Regions from separate parts of the Homo sapiens genome. Here region 1 is linked to region 2. The links come from fine-mapping of genetic effects on gene expression. Tissue or cell type: whole blood. Region 2 holds a variant in brackets; the other region holds the start of a gene. All regions are shown on one strand. Distances are from middle to middle.

The links. PIP is the estimated chance that this variant, and not a neighbour inherited with it, causes the effect.
Region 1: OTUD3 starts here. The variant in region 2 is fine-mapped to the expression of OTUD3 in whole blood (TOPMed, PIP above 0.99).

The regions. Positions count from the first base shown.
Region 1 is chr1:19,878,867-19,886,866 of GRCh38, reverse strand. OTUD3 (OTU deubiquitinase 3) reads right to left here and starts at 4,472. Exons shown (of 8, transcript NM_015207.2): 1 at 4,133-4,472. The coding sequence starts at 4,353. The region is part of intron 1 of LOC105376823 (a long non-coding RNA gene); the gene reads left to right. RefSeq lists a silencer at 3,929-4,268 and an enhancer at 4,639-4,688.
Region 2 is chr1:19,917,771-19,925,770 of GRCh38, reverse strand. It overlaps PLA2G2E (phospholipase A2 group IIE), which reads left to right and starts at 2,154. Exons shown (of 4, transcript NM_014589.3): 1 at 2,154-2,251; 2 at 3,016-3,154; 3 at 3,367-3,473; 4 at 5,322-5,762. The coding sequence starts at 2,212. The coding sequence ends at 5,464. RefSeq lists enhancers at 4,223-4,775, 4,776-5,328. The variant T/C (reference allele first, on the strand shown) is at 3,011.

The sequences.
Region 1 (8,000 bases), 39 kb after region 2:
GTTCCCGGACTAGGAGCATCAGCATCCCCTGGGCAGTTGTTAGAAATGAAAATGCTGGGGCCCACCCAGGCCTACTCAATCAGGCATTCTGGGGTTGGGGCCCAGCAACGTAGCCCTTCCAGGTGTTTTCACTAGCAGTCCAGGTGGTTATGTTGCATACTGAAGTTTGAGAAACACTAGTTGAGCATCTAGACTCTAAATCAGTCACTCTCAATTATGGATGCATATAAGAATCATCTGTAAATTTTTTTTTAAAAAACATCAATAACCAGGCCCCACTCTAAGATTCTGATGTAGTTGATCTAGGGGAGAGCCCAGGCCCTGAATTGTTTCAAAAGTTCCTCCCCAGATATTCTAGTATGGCACCCAACTGAAAACCACTGAGTGAGGCACAAAAGATGGCACTGCTGTTCAGGTGACACAGGCAATAATTAGACAAGATGATGTGTGAATGCCCTTCTACTACTGTGATCCTGCAATATTAAAAACAAAACTAAAAAATAAACTACTTGTTAGTAATAAGATAAACAGCTAAAATTAGTGATTCTTCAATGTTTCAATTTTAGAACACTGCTAATGAGTAATGTAACTCAGAACTACATTTAGTAAGACCCAACTAGATAAGTTCAGAGGGATGTTAATATTGTACTGCCTAATAAATAGAGTTATACATTCTTTTCACACTATAGCCAATCATGTTTTTAAGGAAAACATCAAGGTTAAACTATTTCTTTCTTGCTTTGAAAAATGAATCCAATTTATGTGGGTCCACCTTCCAGACAACACGTGAAATATGAAGCTGGTCCAGGAAGCATTACAAAACCCTCTAAGTAGCTCCCTGATTAATCTACACTAAGCTGACTCAACCCATGTAAAGGCTGTATTACAGGATATTGGTTAATTCATCCCTAAACCCCCTCAGGTTCCAGAATGCTACAGGTACCATATTGCCAACAATGAACATGCTCATAGATACTGTATCAGGCTACTCCAGATTGTAATCAAATCTGAATGAAAACAGGGAACGCTAGAGATGTCAACTATTTTTTAATAGTCTTTAACTTCATTATATTTCACCTGAGTCCTTAATAAACATTAATAAAAGAATCCGTTGTCCAGGCGCGGTGGCTCACACCTGTAATTCCACCACTTTGGGAGGCCAAGGCGGATGGATCATGAGGTCAGGAGTTCGAGACCAGCCTGGCCAACATGGTGAAACCCCATCTCTACTAAAAATACAAACAAATTAGCTGGCTGTGGTAGCAGGTGCCTGTAATCCCAGCTACTCAGGAGGCTGAGGCAAGAGAATTGTTTGAACCCAGGAGGCAGAGATTGCAGTGAGCCAAGATTGTGCCACTGCACTCCAGCCTGGGTGGCAGAGTAAGACTCCGTCTGAGGGGGGTAGAAGAATCTGTTGACACCTGCCAACCCATCACATACACAGGAAACACCATCCCCTGCAGTGATAAAGTCTGTCATCACCACATTCGAAAGGACTAGGATACTGACGAGGGCTGAACCACAGTCCAGCTAATGGAACTCATGTGAAGAACTTGTGAACAGAAGGTGGTTAGCTCCATGAAGCCCACACAAGAGGAAATACGATCATTTTATCTAACACTGTCCGAATAACAGGAACCTTGGAAGAGAGACATGAGCACTCCAGTCAAGCTGGTTTCTGGAGCCTAGCTTCACTGCCCGTTACTTCTACCCTTGTGCCCTACACTACCCGTCACCCTAAACAACCTGTAGATCTCCCAAAAACATCGTGTCCTTGTGCCTCTATATATACTCCTTCTCAGATGGGACCGTTCTCTTGGTGTACTCCTATTGGTCCTTCATGACCCAATCAGAGCATGACACCCTCTGAGAGGCATCTAGCAGTGTATCCAATGAGTATTTACCGAATGAACGAGAAGGACTTCCTGGCCAATTCATAGAGTAGTAGCCTTTTCCTTCTCAATAGTACCATTATAATCAGTCACTGTTACTAAAAATATATCAAACTATATTTTAATTATTTGTATCATCTGTTCTCAAAGTGTGACTCAAGGGACCGGAGATGTGGGAAGGTCTCTGATATGCTTTCAGGGTATCCGTGAGTTCAAAACTAAGATGTAATGTACCTTTTTCATTCTCATTCTCTCACAAGTGCAGTGGAGTTTTCCAGAGGCTACCTGATGCATGAAGTCATCACTCTGATAGCTAATGGAATGTGTGTGTATTCTTGTGTTTTAACTTTGTTTTACTTTCTAATACAGTAAATACTCATAGCTATAACCCATATAAAGTTCTTTCGGTTTCTCAGTAATTTTTAAGAATGCCAAGAGATCTTAAGACCAAAAAAGCTGAGACCCACTGTTACGTGTTTCTACCTTAGGCTATGAAGTCCTTAAGTATCTTAGTCATCAACATATTCCCAGCACCCTACTTAAGGTGTGCTGAATTAACTTGAAAAGTATGCTGTGTGTGTATGGGGGTGTGGGGATAGGGAGCAGAAGTAGTACCCCCAAAGTTTCCCATAACCTTATGAAAGCCCCCTCAAGAGTTTACAACTCCCTGTGCTAATTCCTCCTCATAAGTAACCTTCTATTGAGTACTTCAGTTTCCTGGGCACCCTGACATTGAGAATACCATACCCAGTATAGCAGACACAAGCAATCCAATCATTTGCAAGGAAAAGCCCCAATGTCCCACGCCAATTCCACTGTATTCAATTGGTATTTCTGTTTCTATAAGGGTGTCTTGGGCTTATGCTTAGGCTAGCTGACCTCCCTCTATTATTTTTATATTTCATTCAGCAAAAACGTACTGACTGCCTTCCATGTACCAAGCACTTTGCCAGATGATGGTGAATAAATGTAATCAAGTTCCAACTGCATCTTAAGCAAAAACAGCAACGCAGCAAAGTGTGGTGAACTCTTTGTGAGCAAAAAGAAATCCAATCTGCCTGAAGCAATGAGCATAAACAGGAACGGTGGGAAAGGGAAATTAGGACCAGTTCACAGTCTTAATCAATAAGCTGCAATGTAATGTGAAAATTTTTAAAACACCTTATTCTGCAGTTAATATCTAAGGCAATTCCTGGCCGGGGGTGGTAGCTCATGCCTGTAATCTAGGCACTTTGGGAGGCCGAGGCAGGAGGATCGCTTGAAGCCAGGAGTTCGAGACCAGCCTGGGCAACACAGCAAAATCACCGTCTCTACAAAATAACAATAATAATGAACTAAGGCAATTCCTTATGGTCTTTAATTTCATTTTAGTCTTCCCTCTGCAGGATCTGAGCACTCAAATACGGGGAGGAAAAAAACAAAAGCCAGGCTGTTATTAACACTCTCTCTTCCAAAGTGACACAGCTGACAACCAGACCCCTTTTTACCTGCCCCTGCAATGGGGATCCTAACTGTTCTCCCCTCTTCCTGACCCTTTTCCTTCTTCCATCCATGTTCCTGGAGCCATATCCCCTTTCTTGAAGCTAATTTTCTTCCTCCTCCCCACTCTCCCCCTCCGCGTTCCCTAAAGAAAGCTGGACCTGGATCCAGTCTAAGTCCCAAGAAAGCTTGGGGAAGCACCTTTGCTTACAGAGAAACTGAGGCCCATGGAAGGAAGAATTAGAGAAGCTGCCTTCAGCTCAGTAAACAGGCGACCTAATTTCACAAATGTAAATGGGGGCACCACCCAAAAACCAAGGACTCAAAGGAGGCAAAGCGTTCTACCAAGTGGGGCTTACTCAAACTCCTTCAACTGGTCTTATCGTCATGATAACTGTTTTTCCAATGCCTGGCTCCATCTCATTCCTTCAGAACTCAGCTTAAATGTCACCTTTGAGAGAGCCCTTCCTGGCCACAATCCAGTGGCCCTGCTCCCATATACGGTCTCAGCACCCACTTTCTATTTCGCTCGCGGCGTCTGCCATGATTAGGACCCTTTGGGATCCCCGCGAGCGTCTCGGGGCGAGGGGCTTGTCCGCCTCACTCGCAGCTGGACGCCCTGCACTCGGAGCGTGGCTGGCTCGCGGGAGGCGCCCGGGCCGCCCGAATGAATGGATGGATGGACGCGAGCGGGCAACGGTCGCCAGGCCGAGCCCGGCGCGTCCCCCGGCGCCGCCTCCCTCGCTCCCGGCCCGCCTCACCCGTCCCCCGGCACCTCCCGCAGCTTCAGCCCCAGGGCCTGCAGCTGGTTGGCGAAGCTGACGAACTCCTCCTCGCAGCCGCCGCCGCCGCCAGACTCCGGCCGATTCCGCCGCTCCTTGGCCAGGGCCCGGCGCGCCGCCCGCTCGTCCCGCTTGCGCTCGGCCTCGGCTTTCCGGCTGCCGCTGCCCGGCCGGCTCTTCGCCGCCTGCTTTCGGGACATGGCCTTAGCCTGCAGTCCCCAGCGGCAGGAGGGAAAGGCGCAGGACCCCCCAGCGTCCGCCTCAAGCGTTGGGAAGGTAAAACAGCGCGGGCAACGGAGCCCGGCGACGACTACGCAGCAACCGCGCCTGCGCCGGCGCCCAGCACCCCGGTCACATGATGGAATCCCCGCCTCTTTTGCGGGGCTCGGCGAGCAGACGCCATAGAGAGCTGGAGGGGCACCCATCTTGGTTTGTTCTATTCCGCCCTCTAGTGGTGGATGGTACTCAACGTGAGTGGCAGGAGCGACCGGAGAGGGACCAGAGAGAACAAAGCAGGAACAAGTCAAGCAGAGAAATTAAAGATGATAGAAGAGTGGAACACAGAGCAGCGGCAAAAGTTAGGACCGGAGATGAATAAAAACGATTTAAACTCTTGCTGCGAGCCTACTACAGTTGGATAGGCACTTTCACACGGCTCATTCTTGTTTAATTATCCCCAAATTACAGGAAACTGAATCTGAGTGGTTAAATAATTTCAAGATCACACAGCTAAAAGGCAGAGCTTTGCCCTGGCTCCAAAGCCCGCATACTTGTTTATTTAATCCTGCCCTTCATCTCTCCGCCTTCCTTCGTAACTCAAGGGAGAGGTCGCCCTTCTGTCCAAGACCACTGGAAATCCTAATTCCATCCTAGAGCGACCCACCTAGGTTTGCCTGGACTAGAGGTTTTCTTGGGATGCAGGACTTTCCGTTTTAAAACTGAGACAGACCAGGCTGGGCGTGATGGCTCACACCTGTAATCCCAGCACTTTGGGAGGCCGAGGCGGGCTGACCACAAAGTCAGGAGATGGAGACCATCCTGGCTAACACTGTGAAACCCCGTCTCTACTAAAAATACAAAAATTAGCCGGGCGTGGTGGCGGGCGCCTGTAGTCCCAGCTACTCGGGAGGCTGAGGCAGGAGAATGGCATGAACCCGGGAAGCGGAGCTTGCAGTGAGCCGAGATTGCACCACTGCACTCCAGCCTGGGGGACAGAGCGAGACTCCATCTCAAAAAACAAACAAACAAAAAAACAAAAACAAAAACTGAGGCCAGGTGCAGTGGCCCACGCCTGTAATCCCAACACTTTGGGAAGCCGAGGCCAGGGGATCGCCTGAGGTCAGGAGTTCGAGACCAGCCTGGCCAGCTGGCCAAGATGGTGAAACCCCATCTATATTGCGTGAGGCTGAGGTTTGGAGTACAAATGAATCTGTCACCCAGGTAGTGAGCAAAGTACACAATACACAATAGGTAGTTTTTCAACCCTTTCCCCCAACTGCCTCCCGACTCTTGTATTCCCCAGAGTCTATTGTTCCCATCTTTGTGTCCATGTGTATCCAATGTTTAGCTCCCACTTATAAGAACGTGCAGTATTTGGTTTTCTGTTTCTGCCTTAGTTCACTTAGGATAATGGTTTCCAGCTGTATCCATGTTGCTGTTCTCCCCTCTTCCTGGACATGATTTTGTTCTTTTTTATGGCTGCATAGTATTCCATGGTGTATATATACCACATTTTCTTTATCTAATCCACTGTTGATGCGTACCTGGGTTGATTCTATGTCTTTGCTATTGTGAATAGTGCTGCAGTGAACATACGGGTGCATCTGTCTTTTTGATAGAACGATATATATTCCTTTGAGTATAGACCCAGTAATGAGATTGCTGGGTCGAGTGGTAGTTCAATTTTTAGTTCTTTGAGAAATCTCCAAACTGCTCTCCACAGTGGCTGAACTAATTTACATTCCCACCAACAGTGTAAAAATGTTCCCCTTTTCCCCACAGCCTCAGCAACATCTGCTATTTTTTCTTTTTAACAAAAGCCATTCTAACTGGCATGAGATGGTATTTCATCGTGATTTTGATTTGCATTTTTCTGATGACAATAAGAATGCAAAAGAGAGTTGTAAAGATTAAATAAAAATGTAAAGCCCCAGGCATGAAGTAAGTACCTATTTAATGAAGTTGTTTGAATCAGTTCTCTGGAAATCTCATGAGCTCAGGGGCAAAGACTTTCAAACTTTAGAAACCAGGGAAGAAAGGTTTCTCACCAGCAAATAAGTAAATACAGACTGCTAACATATTGATAGAAAAGCGAACACTTGCCCGTCTTGTAAAAATCTTTTTGGCTGGGCGTGTGGCTCACGCTTGTAATCCCAACACTTTGGGAGGTGGAGGCGGGCGGATCACCTGAGGTGAGGAGTTCGAGGCCAGCCTGTAATCCCAGCTACTGGGGAGGCTGAGGCAGGAGAATCGCTTGAACCCGGGAGGCAAAGGTTGCAGTGAGCCGAGATTGCGCCATTGCACTCCAGTCTGGGCAACAAGAGTGAAACTCCTTCTCAAAACAAAAACAAAAACACAAACAAAAAATCTTTTCTGGCATAAGCCCTTAGCCTTTAGCCCACACACAGATTTTGAATGGGCGAATTTCTCTTCTCAGCGGAGACCTGTGTTAGACAGTGTCTCTAAGTGCAAATCAATGCTGCCTATAAATTATATTTAAAGGCCAAAGGGAAGGAGTATAGTACTTGTAAATAAAATGAATGCTCTGCCCACTTCGCTAGAGTTAATTAAAAGAATCATTGACCCGCACAGTGGCTCATGCCTGTAATCCCAGGACTTTGGGAGGCCAAAGTGGGGGTATTGCTTGAGCCCAGGAGTTCAAGATCTGCCTGGGCAACAAAGTGAGATTCCCCATCTCTGCAAAAAAATTTTAATTAGCTGGGCATGGTGATGCATGCCTGTAGTCCCAGCTATTCGGGAGGGGCTGAAGTTGGAGGATCACTTGAACCTGGGAGTTTGAGGCTGCAGTGAGGTATGACTGTGCCACTGCACTCCAGCCTAGGTGACAGAGCAAGACCCTGTCTCAAAAATAATAATAATAGTAATCAAACCTCATTGGATGGCAGTATAAATTAGTAAAAAGTGTGACTAACAGAATTTTAGTGAAGAAATGCAGCTTTAGGACTTTCAAGAACATACCATCAAGGGTATGGGAAAATGAGAACTCTCGCACACTGCTGTTGGGAGGTAAATTTATCTAGCCACTTTGGAGGGCAATTTGGACTGTATCTGGTAACTTTGGGGTTTTTTTTGTTTTTTTGTTTGTTTGTTTGTTTTGAGATGGAGTCTTGTTCTGTTGCCCAGGCTGGAGTGCCGTGGTATGATCTCGGCTTACTGCAACCTCTGCCTCCCGGGCTGAAGAGATTGTCAGAGATTCTCCTGCTTCAGCCTCCAGAGCAGCTGGGAATACAGGCACACACCACCATGCCCAGCTAATTTTTTTTTTTTTTTTTTTGTATTTTTAGTAGAGGCGAGGTTTCACCATGTTGGCCAGTCTGGTCTCGAACTCCTGATCTCAGGTGATCCGCGTGCCTCAGCCTCTTACTGTGCTGGGATTAGAGGCATGAACCACTGCACCTGGCCTGTATCTGGTAACATTTTAAATGTCTAGTGTCTACATCTCGTGATCTATCCTAAAAATAGAAATATTACATCTCCTCCTAAACTCCTCGTGTGTATCCGTATTCTAAATTTTCCTCGTGCAAGACGATGAACCCCAGGGTATATACTCCGGACAATGTAGCTCCTTCAAAAGTACACTCTCAGACGCAGATAGTCCTAAAGCAAA
Region 2 (8,000 bases):
ACAGTCTTTACTTTTCTGCTACAGGTGTAGACCTGCAGGGACTTGAAGGAGCCCTGTCCTAGCCAGGCCAGGATTCAAAATGGGTCACAAAAAGGATCGTCTCAGAAACCTGGCCCTTCCTGGGAAACACCCCTTATGCCACCACAGGAATGGCTGTGGGCCAAACCTACTAGGGAATCGACGCTAATTTTCAGTTGTTTAGAAGGTAACTCCTCAGTGATTCACTGTTTGGGCTCTCGTAACCCAGGCCAGGAGAGGCAGGGGCTGCCAGGAGATCAAAAGGAAATCGTGAACAAAGGTCTCTCTTTTCAGGAGACCATGACTCACAGCTGCTAGGTGATCCTGGGCAGGTGGACTCACCTCTCTGACCCCTTCTCCCCGCAAGTCTTCTCTGAAACAGGGTGAGAAGAGCCCAGCATGAAGAGAGTCCCAGGAGGAGTTATTAGCAGGAAATGAATGGGAGGGGCAGGGAGAAAAGGGTTTCCTGGGCTTTACTCTTATTTTATTTATTTATTTTTTTCTGAGACTGAGTCTCACTCTTGTTACCCAGGCTGGAGTAAAGTGGCGTGATCTCGGCTCACTGCAACCTGCTCCTCCCAGGTTCAAGCGATTCTCCTGCCTCAGCCTCCTGAGTAGCTGGGATTACAGGCGCATACCACCACACCTGGCTAATTTTTGTATTTTCAGTAGAGATGGGGTTTCACCATGTAAGCCAAGCTGGTCTCGAACTCCTGACCTCAAGTGATCCACCTGCCTTGGCCTCTTAAAGTGCTGTGATAACAGGTGTGAGCCACCGTGCCCGGCCGATAAAAGGTTTTTAACGTAAGAGTATGAACACTCAGCCCTCCTCTCCTTACTCCAAGGCGAAACCTCCCCGGGCCTCTATCCTCCGGCTGGTTGGGGTCAGGGAATTTGTGTCGGGATTCCTTCCAGCCTGTAGGGTGAGACCCAGACTCAGTGGGTTTAGTCTCCTCTCCTGGAACGGAGGCTGGCACCAGGCCCTAGACCAGCTCCTGAAGCCTGGAGCCCGCTGGTTAGGCCGAGGGCTGCAGTACACCGGTTGTCACGGGCCCTGGGCACATCAGCCTTTGTGGGCTCTTCCTCCATATATTAAATGTTATGACTGTCTTGGTTTGAAGACAAATATAATCCAGGTGGGATGGTACTGGTTTTTCTCCTACTTTTATAAGAAAGTAACACATTCTGTTGGGGTTAAAAGTAGTATGGCTGCTAGGCACCACCTCCACTTCGTGCTGGATGAGTTGGCCCAGGTGAAGCCCTTTATGTTGCCTGGGTTTAAATTCTAGCTCATCACTTATGCATGTGCCTCAGTTTCCCTCCTCTGTAAGATGGGGATGACTGCAGCACCCACGTGATGGGGCTGTGGTCCTGCTTGAAAGGGGCTTGGCACAGCGCCTGGTGCATAGCAAGTACTTGGTGAGGGCTGGCTGCCTGGTTGCGTGTGAGTTTTCCATCCTCCTGTGCGGGAGGCAAGAGGGACACCTTCTATCCTCATAATACAGGCAGGAAAACTGAGGTTCCAAGCAAGGGAAAGGACCTGCCCACGGCCGCCTAATACGCAGTGGAACCAGGACTCCAAGGCCACAGACCCAGCGACTCCCAGGCCCTGAACGGTGACGGAGGTGCAGGGTCAGTGATCCCAGTCACAGACCAGAGCAGGAGGGTCGGGGAGGGGAAGCGCCAGGCCAGGCCAGGGCCTCCTGCCTCCGGTTCTGCCCGGGTGGAAACTCTGAAACAGGACGGACTTGGCCCTGGGCACCTCCAGGCTGTGAGAACTGAGGTTTTTCAGTCTCTCTGAGTCTCAGTCAAGTGGAGATGAGGAAAAGATACCAAGAATGACAAGCACCTGGCACAGCCCGCGCCTCACAGCGTGGTCAATGGATGATTTTTTGGAAAGGGTGGGTGATGGGAAGGGTGTGAGTAGAAAGAGCCACGAGATTGCCCGCCATCCCCCACACTGCCTGGAAGCAGAGCCCACAGGCCCCAGCTGGCCCCTCCCCGGGGACTTGGCCAAAGTGTCAGACCTGGAAGAATCGTTGCATCACTGGGCACTCACGGGTTAATGACAGGGAGTGGACAGGACCTGGGTATTTAACTAATTAGGAGGCTCCCTGAGATCAGAGGTGGCCCTGCTGCTTTCTTCTGCTGCCTTTTATGCTCCTTGTGCACCTCCCTTCCCCCCAACCTGGGATGAAATCTCCCCACGTGCTGGTGTTCCTTTGCCTCCTGGGTAAGTGATCTTTGTGACCTTCAGCCTTCTGCCCCATCTGGCAACCCCAAGCTCCCTGGATGCCCCTGAGCCTGGCCCTACCGAGGGTGTGGTGGATGCCAAACACTGGAGGCTGCCCCCTTCCTGCCACCAGGGTGACCCTGAGGCCAGTTTTGCCTGAGCCAGCGGTGGCTGGAGCAGAGGGGAGGAGAATGCAGGCTGGGAGGGGTGAGGGGCATGGGCCAGGGGCTGGCGCTTCCCGGATGGCACACCCTAGGCTCCTTCTCCTATCCTAGCTTCCATGTTTGGCTCCAACCTGCCAAGGTGGGCAGGATTCAGTCCCATGGCTGAGTCAGGAGCACCGGGAAGAATTTGGGGAGGTCAGCTGAGGTGGTCAGGAGACAGGTCCAGTGCCATCTGATGAGACCTGGGGGGACAGAGTGTTCCTGGGTGAGATAAGGGCTGACACCTGGGGAGGACTGGTGGCTGGTGGGGAGCCCCTGGAAGGGGTGAATGAGTGACACTGTAGTAGATAGAAGAGTGGGAGGGGACACTGGGGGCGCTGACACACTGGAGGAGAGGACTAGGGGATGAAGGTGCAACGGATGTCACTGGCAATATTATTACTTATTACCACGGTTGTTGTTGAGAGTGGGTTGCTTTGGGGAGGTGAGCTTAACTGGACAACTGGAGAGATGCCTGTGATCAGATTTGAGGGGACATCAGGGGAAGTTGGCTGCAGAGGGTGGGGCCCTCCCTCTCCCTCTCCCTCTCCCTCTC[T/C]GCAGTGGCTCTGGTCACCGGGAACCTGGTTCAGTTTGGGGTGATGATCGAGAAGATGACAGGCAAGTCCGCCCTGCAGTACAACGACTATGGCTGTTACTGCGGCATCGGTGGCTCCCACTGGCCGGTGGACCAGACTGACTGGTGAGGAAGCAGCCTGCAGGGGGACCTCCATGGGGATGGAGGAGCTGGGGGATCCTGGGAGGATCCTGGGAGAAGGAGGGAAGCCTGGGGGCACCTGGAAAATTCAGGCTGATCTCTCCTCTGGGCTGCTTTGGGCTCGGGGGCCCCGAGCAGCCCCTGGTCCAGCCCAGCCTGGCTCACAGGTCCCTCCAGGTCAACCATGACCCTTACAGGTGCTGCCACGCCCACGACTGCTGCTACGGGCGTCTGGAGAAGCTGGGCTGTGAGCCCAAACTGGAAAAGTATCTTTTCTCTGTCAGCGAACGTGGCATTTTCTGCGGTAGGTGGAGAGCCCTGAAGTGACCTAGACACCCTGCGGTGAGGTGGGTGGAGGCAGCTTAAGACAGGAAGCCCCTCCTGATGGTGACCTTGGGCCTTATCAGAGCCAGACCCTGGGCTGGAGGCATGGGGTTTCCCGTTACCACGTAACAGTGGAGACCCAGATGTTCACCAGGCACCCAGGCCAGAGAAGCCCGTACCCCATCAGTGCAGCCCTCAGCCCCAGGTATCTCCCTACCCACAGACACCTCCCAGCTCCAGCCTCTGGAAAGAGGAGCAGAGGGGTCTGAGCTGAGCCAGGGCCCAGAGGAGCTGGACTCAGGCACCCTCCCAAGGCCTCAACAGGAGCTAAAGGTGAAGTCCTTCGGACAGAACGAGCTGGGGCTTTGACTGGGGACAGCAGATGCTGTTTCCAAAGGCTGACTCCTCAATGGGACTGTCAGGCTGGACCCATTTGCTCAGCTGTGCCATGTCCAGTGCCCATTTGGACCAATTAGCTTTCCTTCAGTCCCAGGCCCAGGCAAGCAGCCTCAACCAAGTGAGACTGTCGAGGGACCCCACATGAGAGAGCCAAGCTCTCTCCCTGCCACAAAGCCAGGAGCAGCCTGAAAGAAGGGCAGGGCCTGGTGGGCGGATGCTGCAGCGCGGAAGGATTCGGGAGGTCGCGGCAGACTCAGGTCTCTAAATTCTGTCCTGGCGGCGGGGCAGAGCTGGCTCCATTTCCTCTGCCGCCAACCACTCGGCAGGGCAATGTGCCAGGTACTGAGTCTCTGTCGCTGGGAGTCCATGCAAGGCAGAAGCAGCCACCTGCCAGGATCAGGGCTGAGGGGAGGAGGCAGGTGGGTGGAGACACAAGCTCTGGATTCTACCCAGGGCGTCACCTTCCACCTGCCTGTGACTTTGGACAAGTGATGTAATCCCTGGAAAGCCTCTGTTTCCTCACCTAGAAAACGGAGAGGCTTATACCCACTTCCCCAGCTCAGCCCAGCTCCTGGAAAAAGCCCCCCAAAAGAGGCTGACCGGCTCGGCGTTAAGAGTCCCTTCCAACCCTGGGTGTTGCTGACATAGCGGGCGTGGGCAGAGCCCTGACGGGAGACGAAGGCTCAACTTCAAGAGGGGAAATGAGGCACCTGGCCTGAGCTGTGAGATACAGTCATGGGGACAAAAGGGAGCCAGGGCCACTGCAGGCAGAGGTGACAGAGGCAGCTGCAGTGGAGACAGGAGGAGCCTTCTGGGCCCCTACAGAGCTGATGCCAGCTGGCTCTAGGAAGGACAGGTCAGGGTAGAAGTCTGACTCCCAGGCTGGGTATGGGCAGAAAACTGGGCTCTGTCCACTCTGATGAGGACAGGCAGAGGGCCCTGAGCAGCCTCCAGCTTTGGTCCCAGTGGCTTCCAGCCTAGGCCCACGCCACTCTGGGGCACACATAGCCATCAGATTGAGTTGCTGTCATTTCGTAGCTGTCCTCTCTGCTTGATGGCCACAATCCGCCATCAGCAACGCATCACACAGGGGTGCAGGGGTTGCCTAGAAATCCCCCTGGTCGGGGGCAGTGAGAGTTAGGGAACCACGTGGTGTCCCTAAGGCCGGAGAGAGCTAAGGGCAGTCAGCGTGGGCTTGGGAGAGCAGGGAGGGACAGCGAGGGCAAGCTTCCAGCTTCCCTGGTGTCCTGAGCCACAGTGCGCCCCGCCCTTGTCTCTTGTCTCACCCATCCGTGAAACAACCCGGGAGCTTGGGCTTCCATCAGAATGGAGTTGGTCCAGGTCAAGAACGTGGACCCAGAAGCAGCCAAGAGCTGTCCCACACATATCCTGAGCTTCTGTGGTCCCTGACTCACTTTGTCCCATCCAGCCGGCAGGACCACCTGCCAGCGGCTGACCTGCGAGTGTGACAAGAGGGCTGCCCTCTGCTTTCGCCGCAACCTGGGCACCTACAACCGCAAATATGCCCATTATCCCAACAAGCTGTGCACCGGGCCCACCCCGCCCTGCTGAGGCTATGCTCGGCCTCCCCCCCGTCCCTGGAGGTCCCGCCTCGGGCTGCTGTAGTCCCAGGCCTGGGGAACATTGGCACCAAAGGCCCTCCCTTTGGAAAATTCCTTTCCTGCAAACTCATCCCTCCTTGAGAGCTCAGAGATATGTCCTGGACCATCACTAGCCTCCCAGGCTACCCCTTCTCTGTAGAAAGAACCCTGCCCCAGGAGCCATGGACCCTTCAGCACCCAGAAGACTGTCACTAGCTTCTGGGATCTCAGCTCCCTCTTCTGAATAAGTGAATAATGTTTTCCCATAATTCTAATGTTCTTTGAGTCTCAAATTCTGTCAATCATTCTAGGATTTAATTCACTAGAGTTTCATTCATACATTAATTTTCTGATCACCTACCTTGTGCTGACAGCATGCACTGGAATCAGTGGGAACAAGTCTGACATGGGTGGCCCTGCCTGCAATTCCAGCATTAAATTCTTTTAATTTTCCATGACAGTAAGTTTCTGTGGCTCTCTTTTTCTTTTTCTTTTTCTATTTTTTTTTTTTTTTTTTTTTTTTGAGACAGAGTCTCGCTCTGTCGCCCAGGCTGGAGTGCAGTGTCGCGATCTCGGCTCACTGTAAGCTCCGCCTCCCGGGTTCACGCCATTCTCCTGCCTCGGCCTCCCGAGTAGCTGGGACTACAGGCGCCCGACACCACACCCGGCTAATTTTTTTATATTTTTAGTAGAGACGGGGTTTAACCGTGTTAGCCAGGATGGTCTCGATCTCCTGACCTCGTGGTCTGCCCGCCTCGGCCTCCCAAGGTGCTGGGATTACAGGCGTGAGCCACCGTGCCCGGCCCTGTGACTCTCTTTTTCTAACATTCTACAATCTTATCAAAGATAATGCAATCTCTGGAAGGAATATTTCTGGCCATATGGCTTAATGTGAAAAGCACGAAAAATACCAACCTAAAAATATTGTCCCCACTGTGTCATCAGGCCTCAAATCCCCAACACTGGCAAAGATTGGTTAAGAGTGAGAAGCAGCTCTAGATGGTCTTATCCACACCCCTTCTTTGATGGGCCCCTGGGGGCCAGAGAGGGGATGTTCTACCCGAGGGGGTGTCCCCACTCCCTGGCCCTTCATTTCTTCATGAAGTTGTCATCAGCCACCCACGCTCTGGTATGGCCACGTTAACCAGGCCTGCTGGTTGTAATCTTGGAAAGACCAGAGTGCCCAGGGCCGTTCAGCTGTGAGGACACAGGAAGAGGAGGAGGAAAGGGTTCAGCATCCAGGGCTGACTCCAACCTCCCGATTCTGAAGCCATGAAGAATGTAATGCACTCAAGGATTCCCACCAGGAGGAATGCAGCCTATTCTGGAAGCAATCTATTTCAGCAGATGTTACTTCTAAAGATAGAATTATCTATTATATGCTGATGAAATCTTACAGGACTGGGATTCGCCTGCTCAATGACAGAGCACCTGCCAATGCATTGCACAGGGCAAAGCTCACAGTTGGACACTCAACAAATGACCACTCCCTTCACCCTTCTCAGGGCCTGTGCACAGCATTCAGGACCTTGAGGGCAGGGAGGAGAGCAAAAAAAAATCAAAGGAAGAGCCAGTCATGGTGGCTCACACCTGTAATCCCAGCACTTTGGGAGGCCAAGGCGGGCAGATCACCTGAGGTCGGGAGTTCGAGACCAGCCTGACCAACATGGAGACACCCAGTCTTTACTAAAAATACAAAATTAGCCGGGCATGGTGGTGCAGGCCTGTAATCTCACCTACTCAGGAGGCTGAAGCAGGAGAATCGTTGAACCTAGGAGATGGAGGTTGCGGTGAGCCAAGATCATGCCATTGCACTCCACCCTGGGCAACAAGAGTAGAAACTCCATCTCAAAAAAAAAAAAAAAAAAATCAAAGGGATGTATCGCTGTGACCTTTAAAAGGTGAAGAAGCTCTGTGCTAGCAAAAGGAAGGAGGAGAAGAAAGGGAGGACAGGCGTGTGTACTTTGCTGTTGTAACTGACTCAAATCCTCAGCCAAGTATCACCAGAAGACCATGTCTTAAAGCAAAAACGGCCTGTGTGGGGGAAGAATGCAAACCTCCTTTGCAGGAAAAGTGGTCCTGAGGCGCCCTCTGGTGTCCATTTCATTCAGGCCACTAGGGAGAAACCTGCGCTTGGCTTAAACCTCGATTTCTCTTCCTCAGGTGGGCAAAGTGTGCTTCTGGGCTAGTGAAATTGGTCCCCTCACATTTTCATAAATAAATATACTGAGAAAATGCCAAAGAAGGCCATACAACCATCTGAGGATGATGGCCACTGCAGAAACAGAAAACACAGGGAGAAGGAGCTGATGGGGCAGATTAGAGAGAGGTGACACCTGGGCATGATGGATTTAAGGTACCAATGGGACACCTACCTGATGATCTTAACAGTTGTATAACTGTCCGACGAAACAAACATTGAAACTTAGGAGCAAGATTCCAGCGCAGCCTGCTGTGACCCCTGCTACTCACCCACCCCCACCCACCAAAACCAAGCTGTCTTTTGG